2 separate regions of the Homo sapiens genome follow, and region 1 is reported to be linked to region 2. Evidence: microRNA targets listed by miRTarBase, many of them from high-throughput screens and not tested one by one. Region 2 holds a microRNA gene; the other region holds the end of a gene's coding sequence. Distances are between the middles of the regions.

Region 1 (4,000 bases), 9.8 Mb from region 2:
GCAGGCTCTTTTTGCTGGCTGAAGTCAGCAGAACCCCAGCCTCCAATGCCAGGCTCTTAAGTCTGTGAGGCATCGGTCATCTGTAAGCCAGGGAAGAGCTGTGCCCAGTGCCTGATGCTTTTTGCCCTCACTGTGTCTCTGGTTCCCTCGCAGGCCGGCCAAGACTTCACCACGGCGTGCCCTCAGTGTGGAGGACGTGGGTGCTCCCAGCCTGGCTCGCACCGTGGGCCGCCTGGTGGAGGTGTTCCCAGACGGCACCAGCCAGCTGCAGCTGCAGCGCTCCCCAGGGGGCACTTTCGGCTTCTGCGTGGCCTCTGGGAATGGGCGCCCAGACTCAGGTATGCCCTCTCCTCTTCCTCAGCCCCATGGCTGGGGCGGCCTTAGCAAACAAGGCAGGGCCTTCTGGCTGTGGTCAGAGGCTTTTCTGGTCTTTGGCTGAGCCGTGCAGCTCTGGGAATTCAGAAAGCCTCTGACTACAGGACTAGGCTTCTCCCCTCAGGGGCTCTTTCTGAATTGTCCAGGGCTCTCTAGGAGTCTGCACCTGCAGAGCCTTTGCCCTAGGCAACTGCAGCTGAGAGTGCGTTGGTGGGGAGTGTGCGGGAGGGGGTAGAGTTGGCAGGTTTGACTCCACTGTCCCCCTGCTGTCTGATGACATCTTGAAATTAGAAGCTTAGGCCGGGCGCAGTGGCTCATGCCTGTAATCCCAGAACTTTGGGAGGCCGAGGCGCCTGGATCACCTGAGGTCAGGAGTTCGAGACCAGTCTGGCCCACATGGTGAAACCCATGTCTACTAAAAATACAAAATTAGCTGGGCGTGGTGGCGCATGCCTATAATCCCAGCTACTTGGGAGGCTGAGGCAGGAGAATTGCTTGAACCCGGGAGGTAGAGGTTGCAGTGAGCCGAGATTGCGCCATTGCACTCCAGCCTGGGCAACAAGAGCAAAACTTCATCTCAAAGGAAAAAAAAAAAGAAATAAATAAATTAGAATTTTGAAGGCCATCTTTGCAGAGGAGAGCCAGAGGGAAACTGTCTGTGCCTGCTGGTTCTCAGCAGTCCCTTTGATGTGGCTGCGTTGAAACGGTTCCTTTCCTCCGGCTGTGGAGTATGTCTGGGCACGTGGAGCATGCCTGTCTGTCTCTGCATCCCGTCCCTCCCTCAGGCCTGTGCCCGATGATTATGTTCAGATGAATCCTGGCTGCAGGCCTCTGACTGGGGTGTGCTCTGGGTCTCAATTCAACCCAGGCAATGGCAGGGAGAAGTCCTGGACATCATTCTGCACTCTGACCAGTTCTCAGTTCCACCCCATCCATGAGTCTTTCAGGGCAACGTGACTTGCAAAAGCCCACGCCCAAGGTCTGTGGTCCAGAATGCATCTCAAGGGCCCATAAAAGACATTCCCCAGAGGATCAGGGAAGGAAGACACGTATGTGAGGGTGGGGAAGGAGGGGAGGGGAAGGAAGGAGAGAGAAAGGGAGAGACAGATACAGAAAGACGAACACAGAAGCCTGCTGCGGCCGGGCTCTGCCGATGGGGGGTTGAGTCCTGTGCTTTGATCTCCTAGCTCAATGCTGTTTAGCCTGGAAAAAAGTCTGCCTGCTACCACATTTGCAGACCACAGCATGAGTTCTCATGTCTGTTCCATCATTGTTTCAGCAAATATATACTAAGCACCTACTATGTGTTATAGATACGGGGGATACAGCAGTAAATGGAACAGACCAAATCCCTATCCTCATGAATATACTACCCAGTGAGCAGTTAGATTGTATCTATAAAATGTGTACTCTTGTTATGTATAATGTGCTACGTATGTCAGATGGTGAAAAGAAAGTTCTGAGAAACAGACAGATAAAGCAGGTGTGGCAGGTGCTGGTATAGACAGGAGTGTGGGGAGGCTTTTCTGAGAAGATGACACTTGAGCAGGGCCGTGGATGGGGCGAGGAAGGGGCCCCATGGGTGTCTGGGGAAGAGCATTCCGGCAGACTGAACAGCAAGTGCGGAGCCCTGGTGGAGGGGCGAGCCTGGCCTGTGAGAACTGTGAGGGTCAGGCTGGACACTGCAGAGCAGGCAACGGGTTGGGAGGAGCAGAGTTTGGAAAGATGGGGTTGTGCCACTGTAAGGGGCTTTGGCTTTCATGCCGAATGAGATGGGAGCCACTAGAGGGCTCGGAGCGAGCACTGAGACTCTCTAATGTCTATGAGAATAGACCCCAGTGGGACACGGGTGGAGCCAGGGAGCCCTGTGTTGAAGCTATTTCAGCAGTCCAGGACAGAGACAGTGGTGCCTGGACTGGGAACGGCTGTGGAGATGGGGAGAGGGGAGAGGGGACAGGGGTTGGATTCTGGTTGATTTGACTATTTGCTGATGAGCTGGACATGTAAGAGGAAGAGAGGACAGGTCTCTGCCTACTCTGGACCTCAGGAGGATAAAAAGTCCTTCCTCACAGGCCTTCCCGTAGCCTCCTCTCCCGTTAGGGGAGCAGGACAGGCCCCCCGGACAGGTGGTGTGAAGGCAGAGGCAGACAACGCAGCATGTTTGTGCTCCGGCACCTCTGCTGGCTATGTGATCTAGAGCAGGCGACATCCCCACTGAGCCTCACTCAGTTCCCTAATCTGTGAAATGAGGATGACAAAACCTACCTAGAAGAGTCATAAGGAGCATTTGGTAAGGCACACAGGAAAGGGCCTAGCATTTTTCTTCCCTCCCCTTCAGAAAGAGAAAGTCTGGGGAAGAGAACCCCAGACAGGGACCAGCGTGATCCGCATTCACCTGTCGATGTGAGTGCACACACAACAGGTCATTGTACTCTGCCGCCCACCCTCCCCCAGAGTCCCTTTTTGCTCCCTTGTAGGCAGTGGGAGCCCCTCCCTGTCACCCGTCAGGGAGCTCTGATGGGCAGGGGTCTCTAGTGACCCAGGGCCCCCGGCACCCTCGCCTGAGTTGGTGCCAGCTCCCCGTTGTGCCCAGGCACTCCCTGGTCCTGCTGCCATCATGGGCGCTGGATGGCACACAGGGGTCCCCACGCACATGAAGCCTGGCGAGTGCTGGGGCCTCCGTGTCCCAGGCCATCCTCCAACAGCAGAGGGTCGCTTCTTCCAGGCTCCAAGGGGCTGTGAGGAGGGCTGGCTTGCGCCCCGCACTGAACCGGCAGGATGCTGGTATTAACTTGCTGGCTTTCACATCCGACTCTATATGAGCCTGTGAGAACAGCAGGCTTTGCCTTCTGCTTCTAATTGGATACAACATAGAGATCACACATCCTCAACAAAGGCCATTTCCAGCAGACAATAAATGCCTATGACAGCAGGCTGTCATATTTGTGTCACGAATTTCAGTTGCGAAACCTACCCGAGTCTCCCCAAAATGGCAGGCGTGACGTCAGTGTCTGGCCTAGCTCTGGCAGCATTCTTTCAGGGTTTATCATTAGTCCCCACCTGCAACTCCCACAGCACATCAGACACTTCTCTGGGTTTGCCCCAGGGGCCCCTTCTTACCTGCCCCCTCCCCGTGCCACCAACCCGTAGACAGGGAGGGCAAGCAGTGAAAGGTCCATCTAGAGGAGGTAAAAGACAGGGCTGAGGGAAAACGCCTTGTACAGTCAGGATGGCAGATGTACTCTGTCAGGGAAGACAGCCCCACAGAAAAGGCTCGGCTTGGCCAAGAAGCAACAAAAGGGATTCTACACCTCAGACCAGGGAGGGGGAATGTGTACAAAGATTGGATTTACTAAATTCAGAGCCACAGACTTTCAGGTACTTCGGTGAAGATCAGTGCTCTTTCAAACCCACACTTCAGAGGCAGGCTTTAAAACGCCTGACTTCTGTCAGGGCCACAGGCTGGGCTGCCCAAAGCTCCTACGGGGCTGGGGGATCCGAGAGAGGACTTCCCACTAGTCCAAGATGTGGTGACTAGTTTCAAGCCAGAGATTGAGGAGCAGACCTGATGCCCTTTCGGGCCCCTGCTAAGAACCTGATTCGAGGAAAAGGAAGTGAAGACAGT
Region 2 (4,680 bases):
GAGCCACCACTCCTGGCCAGCCATATCTTATACACAGTGATCTTAACCAAAGCCTCATACTCAAATTTAGTTTGCAAGACGTTGCTGAAGATAGAACGCACTGCTGATATGGCTATTGAGAGGAACACAGCCAAAGACAGCTAATTTGTCTTTTCTTGCTGCTCGAGGAAGACTTTAAAATTTGAACCTGGCAGCATAGGTTGATAAAACTGAACTGCAACATGTGCTACCCTTCAAGAAAAAGAAAGGATAGCCCAGAGGGTAGAGCCTCAGGCCCTGAGGGCAGAGGCCTGAGCCAAAGCCTTCAAGCCTGAAGGAATTTGTCCTACTGGATTTCAAAATTGCTTGGGATTAGTGATTCTTTTCTTTCCTCCTTTTTCCTCCCCGGTTAAATGGGAATGTCGATAACGGTTACCCATGCTTGTCCCACCATTGTATTTTGGAAGAAGATAACTTGTTTTCTAGTTTCACAGGTTCACAGATAGAAATTTTGCCTCATCCTGGTCCATATCCAGAGTCTCATTTATACCTGATTTAGATAATTTATATGATGATGAGATTTTGGACTTTTGAATTGAAAATATATAAATGAGAGTTGAGACTTGATTTCATGCTGCTATGGGTTGAGACTTTGAGGATGTTGGGATTGGGTTAATGTATTTTGCAGATGGGATGGATGTGAATCCTTGGGAACCAGAGGATGGCCTGTAATAGGCTGAACAATTTAACAATGCCCCTCCTCAAAGATATCACATCCAAATTCCTGGAACCTGTAAATGTTATCTTACTTACAAGAGAAAAGGGTATTTGCAAATATAATTAAGTTAAAAATCTTAAGATGGAGAGATTTTTCTGCATTATGTGGGTGAGCCCCAAACGCTATAATGAATGCATCGTTAAAAGAGAGAGGCAGAGGGAGATTTAACACAAAGAGAAGAGAGAAGGTGATGTGATGACCTCAACAGAAAGAGAGAAATTTGAAGATGCTATGCTCTATCTTTGATGATGGCCAGAGGAGCCATGAGTGAAGGCGTACAAGAGGGGTCTTGCCACTGAAAAAAATAAGAAATGCCAGCATCCACCAGAAGCCAGAAGCGGCAAGGAATGGATTCTCTCCTGGAGCCTCTGAAAATGAACATGGTACTGTCACACTTCGTTTTCAGCCTACTGATAGTGATTCCCGACTGCTGACTTCTAGAACTGTGAATCAATTGCTATTATTTTAAGCCATTAACTTTGTGGTAATTTATTACAGCAGCCACAAGAAACTAATACCTTTGGTTTTTCAGCGTTTCCTATTTTACTACTGTGAGGGGGCTTATAGATTGCAAATGATGGAGCAAACAGCAGTGTTTCTCAGATCACTAGAAGTCTGCAGCAATAGGCTTAGTATTCACATTATAAGATTGTTATAAAATTGTTCTAATTTTGTATTTGCCTTCCCTTTGGTTTCTAACATCATCATTTTACATTATCTTAACTTTTTTTAAATTTCAGAGAGATCCAAACATTGGTTAAAACTTAGCTAACACTAAGGGTGCATATAGTTGAAACTGTTGGAGCTGTTTACTACAGCACTTTCTATGCCCTTCTAGTTCTGACTTCTAACCCTGATCTAGAGCCACGATGATGTATTTCCCTCACCTTCTTTGGTCACAGAAGGAGGACATTTCACCCAGATCTGCGGCCTAATCACAGGCCACATTTCTGAATAGGCCACGGATCTGGGCAAAATGTCCTCTTTTCTCAGGAGCTCCCCAAACAATAAATCAGTAAATCATATGAATTTTTGCATGAAGTTTTATGAATAGTGGCTTTCTTCTGGGAATACCTCCCTTTTTTAACTTCCTCTGATTTTTTTCTGGACTATGTATCAATTTTTTTCTTTAATGTTTCTTCTCTCTTTATGCTGATTATCATCTCTTTAAACTTACCCAACTCACAGAAAGCTACAAATTTTTGCACTTCCCCATCCCACATGCCTATAGCAGAGTCAACAAACCATGTGAGCAGCAGAAAACTCATGTCCTATTTAAAGAACACGCTGCTTTCTGAAATGAACATGGCAACTAATCTGCCAATTAATTATTTGTCAATAATGAAACTGCAGCCACATTGGCTTTTGACGTGATTGTAATATTCCAATATTATACTAAAATTTCATGTTCTGGGAGCCCTGACAACTTTCAGTTAGATGAGCTCTAATTAGAAGTTTCTAGTGCTCAGTACTTTCCACTATGAACTAGCAACTACACATAGAGATCTACAATCTGATCTTTCATCATGAAACTTGAGATATAAGTACCTTGATGCTTCAACAGAGCTAAACCAAGGCTCCACCTCTTCCTAATCATGCTCCAACCAGTATTTTTTTTTAACTTAATGCCTTTTATTCATTCAACAGCTTGCTTTGCAGAGCTCACAGCTGTAACAGATGTGTCCTATGGTAAGCTCTTCCACAGTAACTGTAGCCTGTTGGTCATGAGCTTCCATTTGTTGAACTCTACATTGTGACTGACAAACTTGGCTGCACCTTAAAATTACCTGAAGAGCTTTTAAAACTTGCTGTCAATTAAATCAAATTCTCTGAGAGTGGGACCTAATGCTCAGTGTGTTTTTTAAAGCTCCCAGTTTATTTCAGTGTGTGGCTAAAGAACCACAACACAATATCCTAAACTTCTCATTACTGATCATTCTTTCTTCAATGTTCTTTTTCTTTATTCATCATCACTTAACATTTCCTCTAAGGCTTTATTAGCATAGTTCTATAATTCCTTAGAGTTAAAGAAAATTCAGATATTTTTACATCATTGAAAGCTAAAACTTTGTTACTTACATAAGTGCTTAAAAGGCATGCAATGCCCATAAATTCTGTGTTAGATTCAAAATAGTTAACCTTATTTTATACATTATAGAAATTCTAAGGTTAATTTTTTAAAAATTAGGTCTTAAAATGCTTACATTTACAAATCTGATCAATAGTTGCAACCTCTTGTTACTGTTTGCTTTTATAAATTGACCATTAGATGCTTGTGCTCATGAGTTGACACATTGAAATTATGCAAGGTTGAATTTTGAAAAATCTCTGTCACCATATTTAATGGTTCAAGGGAATGAAAGGATTCTAGTTACATAGGCCTAAAGGACATAATGAAATTTAAAATTTGTTTCCCTTAGAAAAGATTAAGATATATTTTCTTAAAAGATATTAAGAAAGGTATTCTTCCATATCCTAAGTTCCCTTAGTAAGTTTCCATGATTAGCATCAATTGTTGAAGTGAAGTTAATTTATGTGTGTCTTACCGAATTTACTGTGGATAAAGGATGACTCAAATAAGTATACACTTGGCCATCTGTTTTTGCAAGTTCTGCATCCACAGATTCAACCCACCATTGATTTAAAAAATCCAAAAATAAAAATAAAAAATCAAAATCAAAATCAAAAAACAATACACTACAACTATTCATTAAGCATTTACATTGCATTAGGTATTATAAGTAACCTAGAGATGATTTAAAGTATCTGTATATAGGTTATACGAAAATACTATATCATTTTATGTAAGAGACTTGAGCATTCGTAGATTTTGGTAACCACGGAGGTCCTGGAACCTTCCATAGATACCAAGGGATGACTGTAATTACTTGGAACCAGCCCTGACCATGATCAGTATACTCATTTACCAATTCGCTTCCATTTGATACTATACATTCACAGGACCATGCAGAGGAGGGCAGGGCTAGCATTTACAAATCAGTCTTTTCCAACTCTTCCAAAGAGATGATGTGTTTCCCAGACTTCCCATTTCCCGATGACTTCCCCAACTTTATGCACAACAGCAAGATCCAGGAATATATCATTGCATTTGCCAAAGAAAAGAACCTCCTGAAGTACATACAATTTAAGGTAAGATGTTATCAACAATTTAGCTCTTGTCATAATGCTGAAGAAGTCTATGTCTACTACTGGATTCTCATTTGTTCCTTTCAGTTTCCCTTTCTAATTTGTCAACATTTTTAACAGTGTGGCCTCTCTAACTCTAGGTTTAGAGAATTACCTTCTTCTCAAGGATACATAGAAAATTCACAAAATTTGACCACCTACAGTTCTTAGACTAAATCACTACTAATTTAGAAATCAATACCAAAGAAATAAATATAAAATACCTGTGAATTTGGAAATTAAAAACTCTTTTTATCTAAATAACATATAGGTCAAAGAAGAAATTTCAATGGGAATTTAAAAATATCTATAACTGAATGTTAATTTAGTCTATGTATCAATACTTGTGGGAAACATAGGAAGCTATATTTTCATGAAAATTATAAATGTAAATGTTTATATTAGAAAATGAAAAAGTTTAAAAATAAGGTAAGAAAGTTTAAAAAAATTAGTAAAAGAAAGACAGAATAAACTCAAAGAACATAGAATGAAGGGGATATAAAATAAATTTATAAAATGTAAAAAAGCATATGTACAAATTGAAAGTTAATTATTTGAAAGGACTAATAAAATAAACAACAGGAGCCAAGTGCAATGGCCCATCTTATAGTCCCAACACTTTGGGAGGACAAGGCAGGCAGATTGCTTGAGTCCAGGAGTTGGAAACTAGCCTGGGTGACATGGAGAAACCATGTCTCTACAAAAAATACAAAAATTAGCTGGATGTGGTGGCACAT

What was found. The annotated mature microRNA hsa-miR-1295b-3p reads AAUAGGCCACGGAUCUGGGCAA and lies in region 2 at 1,711-1,732, shown strand. An mRNA with a match to its seed (bases 2 to 7 or 8) in the 3' UTR can be bound and repressed. Matches are read on the target gene's strand: a 7mer-m8 pairs with bases 2 to 8, a 7mer-A1 pairs with bases 2 to 7 and ends in A, and an 8mer does both.
Region 1: the mRNA of KIAA1614 is a reported target of hsa-miR-1295b-3p. Seed matches in the 3' UTR shown: 7mer-A1 at 827-833.

Annotation. Positions count from the first base shown.
Region 1 is chr1:180,945,150-180,949,149 of GRCh38, forward strand. KIAA1614 reads left to right here. Exons shown (of 9, transcript NM_020950.2): 9 at 154-4,000. The coding sequence ends at 439. Among named protein-coding and RNA genes, the nearest start is that of KIAA1614-AS1, 7.7 kb to the right of the region's middle.
Region 2 is chr1:171,100,067-171,104,746 of GRCh38, forward strand. It overlaps MIR1295B (microRNA 1295b), which reads left to right and starts at 1,673; the gene lies at 1,673-1,732. FMO3 (flavin containing dimethylaniline monoxygenase 3) reads left to right here. Exons shown (of 9, transcript NM_001002294.3): 3 at 3,719-3,907. It overlaps MIR1295A (microRNA 1295a), which reads right to left and starts at 1,740; the gene lies at 1,662-1,740.